2 separate regions of the Homo sapiens genome follow, and region 2 is linked to region 1. The links come from fine-mapping of genetic effects on gene expression. Tissue or cell type: coronary artery. Region 1 holds a variant in brackets; the other region holds the start of a gene. All regions are shown on one strand. Distances are between the middles of the regions.

Region 1 (7,860 bases):
GTAACATAAATTTTTAAATATCCAAAAAATATTATGCAGCCATTAAATAAGGTTATGCAAGTCAGTTTGGAAAGTTATTAATTTTTTAATTTTACTTTAAGTTCTGGGGTACATGTGCAGAATATACAGGTTTGTAACATAGGTATACAAGTGCCATGGTGGTTTGCTGCACCCATCAACCCATCATCTACATTAGGTATTTCTCCTAATGCTATCCCTCCCCTAGTCCCACGAACCCCTGACAGGCCAGGGTGTGTGATGTTCCCCTCCTTGTGTCCACGTGTTCTCATTGTTCAACTCCCACTTATGAGAGAGAACATGCAGTGTTTGGTTTTCTGTTCCTGTGTTAGTTTGCTGAGAATGATGGTTTCCAGCTTCATCTATTTCCCTGCAAAGGACATGAACACATCCTTTTTTATGGCTGTATAGTATTCCATGGTGTATATGTGCCACATTTTCTTTATCCAGTCTATCATTGTCAGGCATTTGGGTTGGTTCCAAGTCTTTGCTACTGTGAATAGTGCTGCAATAAACATACTTGTGCATATGTCTTTATAGTAGAATGATTTATAATCCTTTGGGTGTATACCCAGTAATAGGATTGCTGAGTCAAATGGTATTTTTGGTTCTAGATACTTGAGGAATCACCACATTGTCTTCCACAGTGGTTGAATTAATTTACACTCCCACCAACAGTGCAAAAGCATTCCTATTACTCCACATCTTCTCCAGCATCTGTTGTTTCTTGGCTTTTTAATGATTGCTATTCTAATGGGTGTGAGATGGTATCTCACTGTGGATTTGATTTGCATTTCTCTAATGACCAGTGATAATGAGCTTTTATTCATATGTTTGTTGATTGCATAAATGTCTTCTTTTGAGAAGTGTCTGTTCATATCCTTTGTCCACTTTTTGATGGGGTTGTTTTTTTCTTGTAAATTTGTTTAAGTTCTTTGTAGATTCTGAATATTAGCCCTTTGTCAGATGGATAGATTGCAAAAATTTTCTCCCATTCTGTAGGTTGCCTGTTCACTCTGAAGATAGTTTCTTTTGCTGTGCAGAAACTCTTTAGTTTAATTAGATCCCATTTGTCAATTTTGGCTTTTGTTGCCATTGCTTTTGGTGTTTTAGTGATGAAGTCTTCGGCCATGCCTATGTCCTGAATGGTATTGCCTAGGTTTTATTCTAGGGTTTTATGGTTTTAGGACTTACATTTAAGTATTTAATGCATCTTGAGTTAATTTTTGTGTAAGGTATAAGGAAGGGGTCCAGTTCCTGTTTTCTGCATATGGCTAGCCAGTTTTCCCAACACGATTTATTAAATAGGGAATCCTTTCCCCATTGCTGGTTTTTGTCAGGTGTGTCAAAGATCAGATGGATGTAGATGTGTGGCGTTATCTCTGAGGCCTCTGTTCTGTTCCATTGGTCTTTATATCTGCTTTTGTACCAGTACCGTGCTGTTTTGGTTACTGTAGCCTTGTAGTATAGTTTGAAGTCAGGTAGCGTGATGCCTCCAGCTTTGTTCTTTTTGCTTAGGATTGTCTTGGCTATATAGACTGTTTTTTGGTTCCATATGAAATTTAAAGTAGTTTGCTTTTTCTAATATGTGAAGAAAGTAAATGGTAGCTTGATGGGGATAGCATTGAATCTATAAATTACTTAGGACAGTATGGCTATTTTCATGATATTGATTTTTCTTATCCATGAGCATGAACTGTTTTTCCATTTGTTTGTGTCCTCTCTTATTTCCTTGAGCAGTGGTTTGTAGATCTCCTTGAAGAGGTCCTTCACATCTCTTGTGAGTTGTATTCCTAGGTCTTTTATTCTCTTTGTAGCAACTGTGAATGGGAGTTCACTCATGATTTGGCTGTCTGTTTGTCTGTTATTGGTGTACAAGAATGCTTGTGGTTTTTTCACATTGATTTTGTATCCTGAGACTTTGCTGAAGTTGCTTTTCAGCTTAAGGAGATTTTGGACTGAGATGATGGTGTTTTCTAAATATACAATCATGTCATCTGCAAACAGAGAAAATTTGACTTCCTCTTTTCCTATTTGAATACCCTTTATTTCTTTCTCTTACCTGATTGCCCTTGCCTGAACTTCCAATACTATGTTGAATAGGAGTGGTGAGAGAGGGCATCCTTGTCTTGTGTCAGTTTTCAAAGGGAATGTGTCTAGCTTTTGCCCATTCAGTATGATATTGGCAGTGAGTTTGTCATAAATAGCTCTTATTATTTTGAGATGCATTCTATCAATACCAAGTTTATTGAGAGTTTTTAGCATAAAGCCATGCTGAATTTTATCAAAGGCCTCTTCTGCATGTATTGAGATAATCATGTGGTTTTTGTCATTGATTCTGTTTATGTGATGGATTAAGTTTATTGATTTGCATATGTTGAACCAGCCTTGCATCCCAGGGATGAAGCCAACTTAATGGTGGGGGATAAGCTTTTTGATGTGCTGCTGGATTCAGTTTGCCAGTATTTTATTGAGGATTTTTGCATCGATATTCATCAGGGATATTGGCCTGAATTTTTCTTTTTGTGCATGTGTCTCTGCCAGGTTTTGGTATCAGGATGATGCTGGCCTCATAAAATGAGTTAGGGAGGAGTCCCTCTTTTTCTATTGTTTGGAATAGTTTCAGAAGGAATAGTACCAGCTACTCTTTGTACTTCTGGTAGAATTCGGCTGTGAATTTCTTTGGTCCTGGGCTTTTTTTGGTTGGTATTCTATTGATTACTGCCTCAATTTCAGGACTTGTTATTGGTCTATTCAGGCGTTTGACTTCTTCCTGGTTTAGTCTTGGGAGGTTGTATGTGTCCAGGAATTTATCCATTTCTTCTAGATTTTCTAGTTTATTTGCTTAGAGGTTTTTATAGTATTCTCTGATGGTAGTTTGTATTTCTGTGGGATCAGTTGTGATATCCACTTTATCATTTTGTATTGTGTCTATTTGATTCTTCTCTCTTTTCTTCTTCATTAGTCTGGTTAACGGTCTGTCTATTTTGTTAATCTTTTTAAAAAACCAGCTCCTGGATTCAGTGATTTTTTGAAGTTTTTCCTGTCTCTATCTCCCTCTTTTCTGCTCTGATCTTAGTTATTTCTTGTCTTCTGTTAGCTTTTCAATTTGTTTGCTCTAGCTTCTCTAGTTCTTTTAATTGCAATGTTTGGTTGTCAACTTTAGATCTTTCCCACTTTCTCCTGTCGGCATTTAGTGCTATAAATTTCCCTCTAAACACTGCTTTAGCTGTGTCCCAGAAATTTTGGTATGTTGTGTCTTTATTCTCATTGGTTTCAAATAACTTATTTATTTCTGCCTTGATTTTGTTATTTACCCAGTAGTCCTTCAGGAGCTGGTTGATCAGTTTCCATGTAGTTGTATGGTTTTGAGTGAGTTTCTTAATCCTGAGTTCTAATTTGATTGCACTGTGGTCTGAGAGACTGTTATAATTTCCGTTCTTTTGCATTTGCTGAGGAGTGTTTTGCTTCCAATTATGCGGTCAATTTTAGAATAAGTGTGATGTGGTGCTGAGAAGAATATATATTCTGTTGATTTGGGGTTCAGAGTTCTGTAGATGTCTATTAGGTCTGCTTGTTGCAGAGCTGAGTTCAGCTCCTGGATATCCTTTTTAACTTTCTGTCTCATTGATCTGTGTAATATTGACAGTGGGGTGTTAAAGTCTCCCACTATTATTGTGTGGGAGTCTAAATCTCTTCGTAGGTCTCTAATAACTTGCTTTATGAATCTGGGTGCTCCTGTATTTGGTGCATATGTATTTAGGATTGTTAGCTCTTCTTGTTGCATTGATTCCTTTACCATTATGTAATGCCCATCTTTGGCTCTTTCGATCTTTGTTGGTTTAAAGTCTGCTTTATCAGAGACTAGCATTGCAACCCCTGATTTTTTTTATTTTTTTATTTTTTTTTTTGCTTTCCATTTGCTTGGTCAATATTCCTCTATCCCTTTACTTTGAGTCAATGTGTGTTTTTGCACGTGACATGGGACTCCTGAATACAGCACACCAATGGGTTTTGACTCTATCTAATTTGCCAGTCTATGTCTTTTAACTGGGGCATTTAACCCATTTACATTTAAGGTTAATATTGCTATGTGTGAATTTGATCCTGTCATTATGATGCTAGCTGGTTATTTTGCCTGTTAGTTGATGCAGTTGCTTCATAGTGTTGACGGTCTTTACAATCTGTTATGTTTTTGCAGTGGCTGGTACCGATTGTTTCTTTCCATATTTAGTGCCTCCTTCAGGAGCTCTTGTAAGGCAAGCTTGGTGGTGACAAAATCTCTCAGCATTTGCTTGTCTGTAAAATATTTTATTTATACTTCACTTATGAAGCTTAGTTTTGCTTGATATGAAATTCTGGCTTGAAAATTATTTTCTTTAAGAATGTGGAATATTGGCCCCCACTCTCTTCTGGCTTGTAAAGTTTCTGCAGAGAGATCCACTGTTAATCTGATGGGCTTCCCTTTATGGGAAACCCAACATTTCTCTCTGGCTGCCCTTAACATTTTTTCCTTCATTTCAACCTTGTTGAATCTGATGATTATGTGTTTTTGGGTTGCTTTTCTTGAGGAGTA[C/T]CTTTGTGGTGTTCTCTGTATTTCCTGAATTTGAATGTTGGCCTGTCTTGCTAGGTTGGGGAAGTTCTCCTGGATAATATCCTGAAGAGTGTTCTCCAACTTCTTTCCATTCTCCCTGTCACTTTCAAGTACACCAATCAAATGTGGGTTTGGTCTTTTCATTCAGTCTCATATTTCTTGGAGGCTTTCTTCATTCCTTTTCATTCTTTTTTTTCTCTAATCTTGTCTTCATGCTTTATTTCCTTAAGTTGATCTTCAATCTCTGATATCCTTTCTTCCACTAGATTGATTCAGCTATTGATACTTGTGTATGCTTCACGAAGTTCTCATGCTGGGTTTTTCAGCTCCATCAGGTCATTTATGTTCTTTCCTAAACTGGTTATTCTAGTTAGCAATTTCTCCATACTTTTTTCAAGGTTCTTAGCTTCCTTGCATTGGGTTAGAACATGCTCCCTTAGCTTGGAGGAGTTTGTTATTACCCACCTTCTGAAGCCACTTCTGTCAATTCATCAAACTCATTCTTCATCAAGTTTTGTTCCCTTGCTGGCAAGGAGTTGTGATCCTTTGGAGGAGAAGAGATGTTCTGGTTTTTGGAATTTCCAGCCTTTTTGTGCTGGTTTTTCCTCATCTTTCTGGATTTATGTACCTTTCGTCTTTGATGTTGGTGACGTTTGTGTGGGGTTTCTGTGTGGATGTCCTCTTTGTTGATGTTAATACTATTCCTTTCTGTTTGTTAGTTTTCCTTTTAACAGTCAGGTCCCTCCGCTGCAGGTCTGCTGGAGTTTGCTTGAGGTCCACTCCAGACCCTGTTTGCCTGGGTATCACCAGTGGAGGCTGTAGAACAGCTAAGATTACTGCTATTCCTTCCTCTGGAAGCCTCATCCCAGAGGGGAACCCACCATATGCCAGCTGGAGCTCTCCTGTATGAGGTGTCTGTTGACCTTTGCTGGGAGGTGTCTCCCAGTCAGGAGGCACGGGGGTCAGGAACCCACTTGAAGAGGCAGTCTGTCTCTTAGCAGAGCTCGAACACTGTGCTGGGATATCCGCTGCTCGCTCCATAGCTGGCAGACACGAATGTTTAAGTCTGCTGAAGCTGTGTCCACATCCACCCCTTCCCCAGGTGCTCTGTCCCAGGGAGATGGGAGTTTGATCTATAAGCCCCTGACTGGGGCTGCTGTTTTTCTTTCTGAGATGCCCTGCCCAGAGAGGAAGAATCTAGAGAGGCAGTCTGGCTACAGTGGGTTTGAGGAGCTGTGCTGGAACTTCCCTGGGGCTTTGTTTACACTGTGAGGGGAAAACCGGCTACTCAAGCCTCTGTAATGGCGGATGCCCCTCCCCTGACAAAGCTGGAGTATCCCAGGTCGACTTAAGGCTGCTGTGCTAGGAGCAAGAATTTCAAACCAGTGGATCTTAGCTTGCTGGGCTCCATGGGGCTGAGATCCACTCAGCTAGACCACTTGCCTCCCTGGCTTAAGCCCCCTTTCCAGGGGATGATGGTTCTGTCTCACTGGCATTCCAGACGCCACTGGGGTATGAAAAAAAAAACTCCCGCAGCTTGGTAGGTGACTGCCCAAAGGCTGTCCAATTTTTTTCTTGAAACCCAGGGCCTCAATGGCGTAAGCACGCGATGGAATCTCCTGGTCTGCGGGTTGCAAAGACCATGGGGAAAGCGTTGTATCTGGGCCAGAATGCACTGTTCTTCATGGCACAGCCCCTCACGGCTTCCCTTGGCTAGGGGAGGGAGTTCCCTGACCCCTTGTGCTTCCCAGGTGAGGCAACGCAGCACCCTGCTTCGGCTTGCCCTCCATGGGCTACACCCAATGTCTAACCAGTCCCAATGAGATGAGCTGGGTACCTCAGTTGGAAATGCAGAAATCACGCACCTTCTGCATTGATCTCACTGGAAGCTGCAGACCAGAGCTGTTTCTATTCAGCCATCTTGCCTGCAACTCAAAAGTTATCAATATTATCTCATTCAATGACAAAGGAGGTTACCAAACAATATATGTGCAATGATCATTCACATATGCTCATATAAATATAATCACACATATACACACACTTATACATATTAACATGCATAAGAAATCATATACAACCAGAGGTTGCTTCTGAATAGGCAGATTGATGGTTATTCTGTATTTTCTTTATTCTGCTTTATGTTTTATGATTTGGAAAAATACACATGTATTACTTTTCCAGTGTAAAAAGACAGTTTTAATATTTTAAATACTAAAAGAATAGAACAGTTAGTTAAATATGTAGCTAAAAATAAATAGAATCCTCCAATTTTGAAAAAAAAATTTTAAATAAAAGCAGTTGGTAAGAAATCTTCATTCTCTCAATCCTTTCTACCTTTGGAAGAAAGTATTTAAGTGTATTATAAAAGGTCATAGAAAAATTTTATTTAACTATAATGAATACAATTTTAATAATATCAAATAGAATGCTGTCTTTAGACATGTCAATGTATCACTTACATGAAAAATAAACTATTTTTGTAAATGGCATCAAACATAAATAAAATGGTCAATTTCTAGGTGACTGCATTGGTAAACCTTTTTTAATTTTTCCCATTGCAGAGATGAGGAAAAATAAAATTTTTGGTTGACATAGAACTTGTACGATTATCATGATCATATAAATCATATCAAAAGAGGAATATGCTATCGATATTTTTAAATAGAAAAATTGATATGAAAATTTATTTATAATCAAATGGTTGCAAAAAAACAGAAAAATTTCTGTGAATATTTTTCTGTTATTGACACTTGTAATAACTGTAAAAAGAAACGAATTATTACATCAATAAGGTGCTGATAAAATACATCACATTTTAATGATTCATTGTCGGACTGAATTCATTCAGACACAATAAACATTTTATATAATAAGACCTTGAAAGCACAATTTGGAATTCTTTGGTAGAATATAGAGTATATTAGAGACTCTACAGTCATGAGCTAAGCCAGAAACTAAAATATAAACAACTAAGTTTACTGCAGCAGCCTCTCTAGTACTGGCCCTCTGTAGAACTCTATACCACACACCTTTCTACAGACAGTAGTTAGCCTGAGTCTGTAAAGGTATTGACTCCTTGGCAAGTCAGTTGTGGCCAGATGCTGCTGTGACTCCATTACTGTCCATTTAATAGAAGTTTTGAGAATACATTTTATGAGTACAGAATATGGACAGGTTTTGTGAGAAACAAAGGTGGAAGAAAGGAAAAATGATTAGTTAAGTAATAATTGTCTTCCCTAATAAAG
Region 2 (7,860 bases), 530 kb after region 1:
AAATCTTTATAAATTTTTTCTCATATTGGGGTCTTTAATCTATCTGGAATTTATTTTAATGTGTTATGAATTGCAAATTTTTAATAAGGATAATTAATTTTACCTGGAACCATTTATTTAAAACTTTGTTATTTCACAACCAATTAATAATGCCTGAACTGAGTTCTTACATATGCATAAGTCTTTGTCTGGGTTCTTTGTTCCTTTCCATTAGTTGGTTTGTCTAGCCTGTACAAATAGTAAGACAGCTGAATACTTACACTTTTACAGTTTCTCCTCATATCTGCAAAGAATGTCTTCTCCTTTCTCACTAAAAAAAAGGCTTAGATATTCCTGATCCTTTCACATTCCAAAGAAATTTTAGAGTTAGTTTAACTGATACTATATAGGGTTTGTAAATTAATTGGAGGAGAATTTATTTCCTAACAGTATTAACTTTTCCCATCAATTAATATCCAGTTTTTTGGCATTCTCTCATATCCTTCAGTAAATATTCAGGTACCTTTTAGTTTTTGTACCTCTTATGAATTTGATCTTAGTTTCTGTAACAGTTTAAGCATATAGGGAATAAATAAGAATGTCAATGATTTTTATATATTCATTCTATATCCAGGAACATGCTGACCTCTTATTAGTGCCAATAATTCATTTATAAGCCATCTCAGATTTTATATATACATAATTACATCATATGCAAATAATGAAATTTAGTTTCTCCCATGCCAATTCTCATTCTTCTTACTTGTTATCCTTGTCTTACTGCATTAATTACGAACTCCTATAAAATTCTTGCATAGCTCCCTACTTTAATGGAGATCTTGTAAGGTTTCACCATTAATAGTATTTGCTACAGGTTTAGATACACTTTGGTAAGTGAGCAAGTACCTTCCTTTTCCCAGTTTGTGAAAAGTTTTCATTACAAATGGGTGCTGCATTTATTGCATGAGTTTTCTGAATCTACTGAATCAATCATAAACTTTTTCTCTTTTAATCTGTTAACATAGTAATATATTAAGATTAACAAAATTTTTAATATTAAGTCATCCTTGAAATCCTAGAATACATATTATTTGGCCATGATGCATTTTTAATATTTTGCTGAATCTAGTTAGCTAATGTGTTACTTAGTATCTTTACATCTATATTAAGTAATACTGGTCTAAAGAATTTCTTTTAAGCACTAACCTTTTCTGGTTTTGGTACCATAATAATAAGAAGAAAAGAATAGCTAACACTTATTTTGCACTTACTATATGTCAGTCAGTGCTCTTAGCATATCTCTTTTGTTTTTGCCATTTAATCATCACAGTTCTATGTGGTAGGTACTCTGGTCATTATCCTAATTAAGCCAGTGAGAGTGTTAAGCATTTACCTAGGAATACAGTTAGTAAGTGTCTGACCAGGAACACATTATCTGTTCTCTAGAAAAATTTAAAAGTTAATAGTTACGTATTGCCTGATAGTTTGATAAAAGCATGTCAATAACTAGGACTCCTTTTTATTTTCCCAACTGATTGCATTTCCCTAATGGATGTAAGTGTATTCAGTTTTAAAATATCTTCCTGGATCGATTTTAATAAGGTTTAATTCTCTAGGAAATATTCCATTACATCTATATTTTTATATTAAATATTAATACATAATTTACTATTCAATAATTTAATATGAAAATGTAGACTATTTTTGGTTTTTCTTGATTAATGTTGTTAGAGGTTTGTGTAAGTTTTTTATCTTTTCTAAAAAACAAACTTTATTCTATGCTGAATCTCCCTATTGTGGCTTGGTTTTCTAAATTCCTTTATTTCTGTTATTATTACTTCTTTCTACCTTCTTAAGATTTACTATTTTTCTAACTTCTTCACTTAATCATTGCTCAGTTAAATATTTAGCTAATAATTTTCCAATTGTTTTGTCCTAGTACAGACATTTAAGGTTAACATTTTTCCTGTGAGTATACTTTTTGTTGTAGTCTATCAGTTGTGCTTCTCTTGTTTTTCAGATCTAAATAGTTTATAAATTGCAATCTGATTTCTGCTTTAAGCTATAAAATATTCGGAAAAGCACATTTTGGCATTCTTTACTAATTTTATTGCAATGTTTTCAGAGAACATGTTTTGTGTGTTACCAACTCTTAGAGACTTTCTTTGTGGCCAAGTACATGAACAATTTAAAAATATATCCTATGGATGGACTTCAGGTGCCAGCCAAGATGAAGTAAGCCTGCTAGAATCTTTCTCTTTCACTCATTACAATTAAAAATTCAGGACAAAATACTAAAACACTTACCTGAGGATGATTCCGAAACAAAATAATAGCAAGGAGGTTGAGGAGCGACATCAAAACTCAAAAAATGACCAGTATGCCAATAGTGAGTTTCCTAGGATATTTTCCTTCAAGATCATCTGGTCTTGGCTTAAGGATGGGCCAAATCAGGGAACAATGTGATGGGAACAGACAGCAAAAACTTTGAGAAAACCCTGGTTTTCTGTCAGAGTACTAAGAAACTGGGACCCTGAGAGGTGGAAAGTGGAGGTTGAAGGTGAAATCCCAATGTGTTTTTCTCTCCCTCTGCCCCAAGGCCAGCTTCATTGACCAGCTTCAGTGCATGTAGAGGCAGCAGCATGAATGTAAGCCCTAGAAATCCATCTTTCTGGACAGAGGAACCAGGAAAATGGGCCTCTAGGGGCCTCTGTGTGTAAAGACTGTGGAAGGAATTCCCATTTTTATTTTCAGTCTTTTCTTTCATTACTTCATCCCCCGGGTATATCCAATAACACAGAACTGTGCAACTGTGTGGAAAACTTAGAAGACTCCTGGCCAGAGGGACTGGGAAAAGAGGACCCTGAGAGACAGACTCTGAGAGAGAAAATTATTTAAAAAGAAAAAAAAAAAGAGAGAGAGAGAGAGAAGCGGCCCCGCCCGGCTCGCAGCGGCAGCATGGCCGCAGCGCGGGGGCAGCAGCAGCAGGCGGCTGCGCGCGGATGTCGCAGGGTTTCGCGGCAGCATGACGGACTACCTGATCAGGGGCGGCACCGACTATGTGCCCGATAACTGGCTCCCCGCGCAGCAGCTCTTTGCCAGCGCCGACTGCCTCACCTACGACGACTTCCTGATTCTCCCAGGATTCACAGACTTCATAGCTGATGAGGCGGACCTGACCTCAGCCCTGACCCGGAAGATCACGCTGAAGACTCCGCTCATTTCCTCCCCCACGGACACTGTGACAGGCCGACATAGCCATTGCAATGGCTCTGATGGGAGGTATTGGTTTCATTCACCACAACTGCACCCCAGAGTTCCAGGCCAAGGAGGTGCGGAAGGTCAAGAAGTTTGAACAGGGCTTCATCACGGACCCGGTGGTGCTGACCCCCTCGCACACTGTGGGTGATGTGTTGGAGGCCAAGATGCGGCATGGCTTCTCTGGCATCCCCATCACTGAGACGGGCACCATAGGCAGCAAGCTGGTGGGCATCGTCACCTCCAGAGACATCAACTTTCTTGCTGAGGAGGACCACACCACCCTCCTCAGTGTTGGCTCCAGCAGGCCTGATGTTGAAAGAGGCAAATGAGATCCTGCAGCATAGCAAGAAAGGGAAGCTGTCTTTCGTCAATGATCCGATGAGCTGGTGGCCATGATCACCTGCACCGACCTGAAGAAGAACAGAGACTACCCTCTGGCCTCCAAGGATTCCCACAAGCAGCTACTGCGTGGGGCAGCTGTGGGCACCCCTGAGGATGACAAATACCGCCTGGACTTGCTCACCCAGGCGGGGGTAGACGTCGTAGTCTTGGACTTGTCCCAAGGGAACTCGGTGTATCAGATTGCCACGGTGCATTACATCAAACAGAAGTACCCCCACCTCCAGGTGATTGGGATGACAGCCGCCCAGGCCAAAAACCTGATTGACGCTGCGGTGGACGGGCTGCGCATAGGTATGGGCTGCGGCTCCATCTGCATCACCCAGGAAGTGATGGCCTGCGGTGGGCCCCAGGGCACTGCATTGTACAAGGTGGCCGAGTATGCCCTGTGCTTTGGTGTGTCCATCATAGCCGATGGCGGCATCTAGACCGTGGGGCACGTGGTTAAGGCCCTGGCCCTTGGAGCCTCCACAGTGATGATGGGCTCCCTGCTGGCCACCACCACGTAGGACCCCGGCGAGTATTTCTTCTCAGATGGGGTGCGGCTCAAGAAGTACCAGGGCATGGGCTCACTGGATGCCATGGAGAAGAGCAGCAGCAGCCAGAAATGATACGTCAGCAAGGGGAATAAGGTGAAGATCGCGCAGGGTGTCTTGGGCTCCATCCAGGACAAAGGATCCATTCATAAGTTCGTGTCCTACCTCATAGCGGGCATCCAGCCTGGCTGCCAGGATATTGGGCCGCAGCCTGTCTGTCCTTCAGTCCATGATGTACTCAGGAGAACTGAATTTTGAGAAGCAAACCATGTCGGCCCAGATCAAGGGTGGCGTCCATGGCCTGCACTCTTAGGAGAAGCGGCTGTACTGAGGACAGCAGTGGAGGCCAAGGTGGTGGAAGGGGCATACCGCAGTGTCCACTTTCAGGCACAGCCTCCCTCCATAACTGAGTGGTCCACAGACTTGCACTATAGGTTCCCCAGCTCCTTTCCAGGGAGAAAGGAGGGGAAGTTCTGAGGGGTCTGCAGCCTCTTGCTGGGCATCGCCTGCAGAATCAGAACTGCTCCCTGGGCCAGAGTGCCCTGGGAACCCCCCAACACACACACACCAGCCCAGCCAGCCAGGCTCTCAGGCCCTGCGCATGCCTCAGGTCTTTCTTGCTGCAGCCTGCTCCAGCCCGGCCCCCACCACAGGGACAAGAGGCCCCTCCTGGCTTCTCCTGTAGGGCACCTCCCTGCCCCCAGCCCCCGAGGAAATGGTGCTCTCCTGGCCCTGCCTCTGGCACTTCCTGGGCCACTAACCCCTCAGCCATGTGGCACTTCTGAGCTCTTGACCTAGGCCAACGGGAGGTCTCTGCCCACTTCCCCGGCCCTGGGCTACCCTTGGGTCCTGCTCCTCAGGCCACTCCCCTGTCCCTGGCCCTGGGAAGGAGGCTTCCCTGATCATGGCCACCTTCCCGTCATTCCTGACTCACCACCGTCCCCAGGTATATCATTCCTGCCCTCTCCTCAGCTGCAGTTGAAGGCTCACTTTGCACAGTTTGGGATCACAATTGTATAATTGTGTATTAAATAATCGGAATAAATCAAGCAGGTCTCAACACCTCCAAAAGAAATAATAAAAATAAAAAATAAATAAATAAATAAGAAGTGAAGAAGAAAATTCCCTGGTGTACCCCCAAACTCTGCCTGAATGGAACACATCCAAAGCAGCATAGCAAAAGCTTTAAGAATTGTCTGTGAATCAGCTCCAAAGTCTTATACTAATCCCTGACTGTTTCAGATAACAATAAAGACTTTAAACCCTGAACTGACATTCGAACTAGCACCAGTGGAAGGCAAGATAGAACTCATGGTCTGAACCCAACTGGATTTATTAGTAAACAAAAAAACTTCAGAAGATTTTAACAAGATGCAGACTCTCACAACACATTACTCAAAACTTTGAAGATGCAATGCAAAATTGCTCAACATACAAATAATAAAAAAAAAATTGGACCTGTTTTCCACTGAAACAACAATCAACAAATGTCAAATCTAAGATGATCCAGATGTTGGAAAAAAGACTTTATTGTAGCTATGATAACCATGCTCCATGAGGCAAAGGTGAACGCTCTTGAAATTAATGGAAATAAAGACGTTCTTAACAGAGCAATAGAAACTACTGGAAAAAGAAAAGGGAAAAACTGGACATTTAAAAAGTAAAAAATACAACACAACACTTGAAATTTTAAAATTTCCTAGACAGGTTCAATAAGGAATAGAGATGACAGAGGAAAAAGTCAGTAAACTTAAAAATTGATCAATAAAAATTATCTAGTCTAAATAACAGAGAGAAAAGATTGAAAATGAAAATGGCCAGAGCCTCTAGGGCCTGTAGATAATATAATAACAAGATTCAAAAAATCTAGTAGTGGTGTCATTGGCATCTATGAAGTAAAGGGAAAAACTGATTGGTGAAGAAAAATATTTGAAGATATAGTGGATGAAAAACTTCCTCCAAGTTCAGTGAAAAATATAAATTTACAGAAAAAATTCAAGAAGTTCAGAAAAATAGTTTAAACCCAAACAAGACTTAAGGGAAATTATAACAAAGGGAAACTTGTAACCTTAAGAATGAGGATAAAGCAAAAGAAATGCTTGGGTATCTGAATAAATATAATTTAATGTTTTTCTCCTCTCAGTTTATAAAAATATATATGACTTTTGAAATCAAATTTTATAACATTTCTAGAAAGGTTCCAATGTATGTAAATGTAATGGACATGAGAGAGCAAGTAGATAGAAAATCAGTAAGGACACAGAAGGCATGAACAACACTATCAACCAACTTGACCTAATTGACATTTGTAGAACACTCTTGCCCACTAGTAGAAGAATGCATATTCTCCTCTAGTGCACATGGAACATTCACCAACATAGACCATAAAACACCTCAACAAATTCAGAAAAAATCAAATTATATTTTGTATATATTATACATTATATTTTCCAAACACGAGTAACAGAAAAAAATCTGTAAAGCACCTAAATATTTGAAAATTAAATAAACCATGAGTCAAACAAGTAGTAGAGTGGGAACTTGAAAAATATTTTGAAATAAATGAAAACAAAAATTAACTATGTAAGGAATGAAAGACATGTACTCCCACAGACTCCACAGATATTAAAAGACTAATAGTACCAACAACTCTATGCCCATGATTTAAACAGCTTAAATGTGATAGACCACTTCCTTGAAAAATGTAAAATAACCAAAACTCACTAAATAGTAAATTGTCTATGTCTTCATCTAGTAGAAAATTAAATATTTTATTTAAAAACTTCCAAAAATAAAAACTCTAATCCCAGATGGTAAATTTTACTAAATATTTAACAAAGAAATAATACTAATTTCACATAATTTCTTCCAGAAAAGGAAGCTGAGGCTGAGGGGTATATATTTCCCAACTCATTTTATGAAACCAAGATTACCTTGATACCAAAATCAACAAAAAATATTACAAGAAAAGTAAACTACAATGCACTATTTCTCATGAACATAAACAAAAAAGATCCTCAAAAATCTGAATCCAGTAATATATTTAAAAGATAATATAAAATTATCTTTTACTTTATTTAAATGAAAATTACAATTACTTATTTATTAGAATGCCTATAAAAGAAAACACACAAAAAAACTGACAATGCCAAGTGCTAGCAGAGATGCAAACCAACAGAAACTCTCATACATAGCTGAAGAGAATGCAAAATGGCACAGCCACTCTAGAAAACAATGCCTTATAAAGTCAAACATACACTTAGCATATAGCTCAATAACCCTACATTTTAGCATTTACCTAAGTGTGATAAAAACCCACATTCACACAAATATGGTAATTTTAAAACAAATGTGTTAGTTTCATCAGAAACTGGAAACAACACAAATGTCCCTCACTTGGGGACTAGATAAATAAATGTGATGCATTCATATAATGAAATACTATACAGCAATAAGAAGGAATAAAGTATTGATGCATGCAAGAAATGAATGAATCTTAACTCTATTATTCTAAGAGAAATAAACCTTTTTCCAAAGTTAATATACAGAGTAATTCCATGTATATTATTTTCTAGAAAAGGCAAAAGAAAATTGCAAGAACTCTACATGAAAAAAGAGCAAATTTATGGTACATAAACTTTTTAAATAAATTTTTAAAATACTTTGTGGGTGTTTGAAAACAATT

Direction of the effects. Alleles are on the strand shown, and positions count from the first base shown. SD is a standard deviation of normalised expression in the study named.
With allele T in place of C in region 1, the expression in coronary artery of the gene that starts at base 3,109 in region 2 is lower (small effect, 0.36 SD a copy in GTEx).

What was found. PIP is the estimated chance that this variant, and not a neighbour inherited with it, causes the effect. A credible set is the group of variants that fine-mapping cannot tell apart.
Region 2: CALCRL-AS1 starts here. The variant in region 1 is the best candidate, but not a certain one, in a credible set for the expression of CALCRL-AS1 in coronary artery (GTEx, PIP 0.73).

What each region holds. Positions count from the first base shown.
Region 1 is chr2:187,530,964-187,538,823 of GRCh38, reverse strand. All of the region lies in intron 1 of TFPI (tissue factor pathway inhibitor), which reads left to right. All of the region lies in intron 3 of CALCRL-AS1 (CALCRL and TFPI antisense RNA 1), which reads right to left. Among named protein-coding and RNA genes, the nearest start is that of TFPI, 20 kb to the left of the region's middle. The variant C/T (reference allele first, on the strand shown) is at 4,595.
Region 2 is chr2:186,998,522-187,006,381 of GRCh38, reverse strand. It overlaps CALCRL-AS1 (CALCRL and TFPI antisense RNA 1), which reads right to left and starts at 3,109. Exons shown (of 6, transcript NR_187179.1): 1 at 3,017-3,109. It also overlaps the pseudogene IMPDH1P7.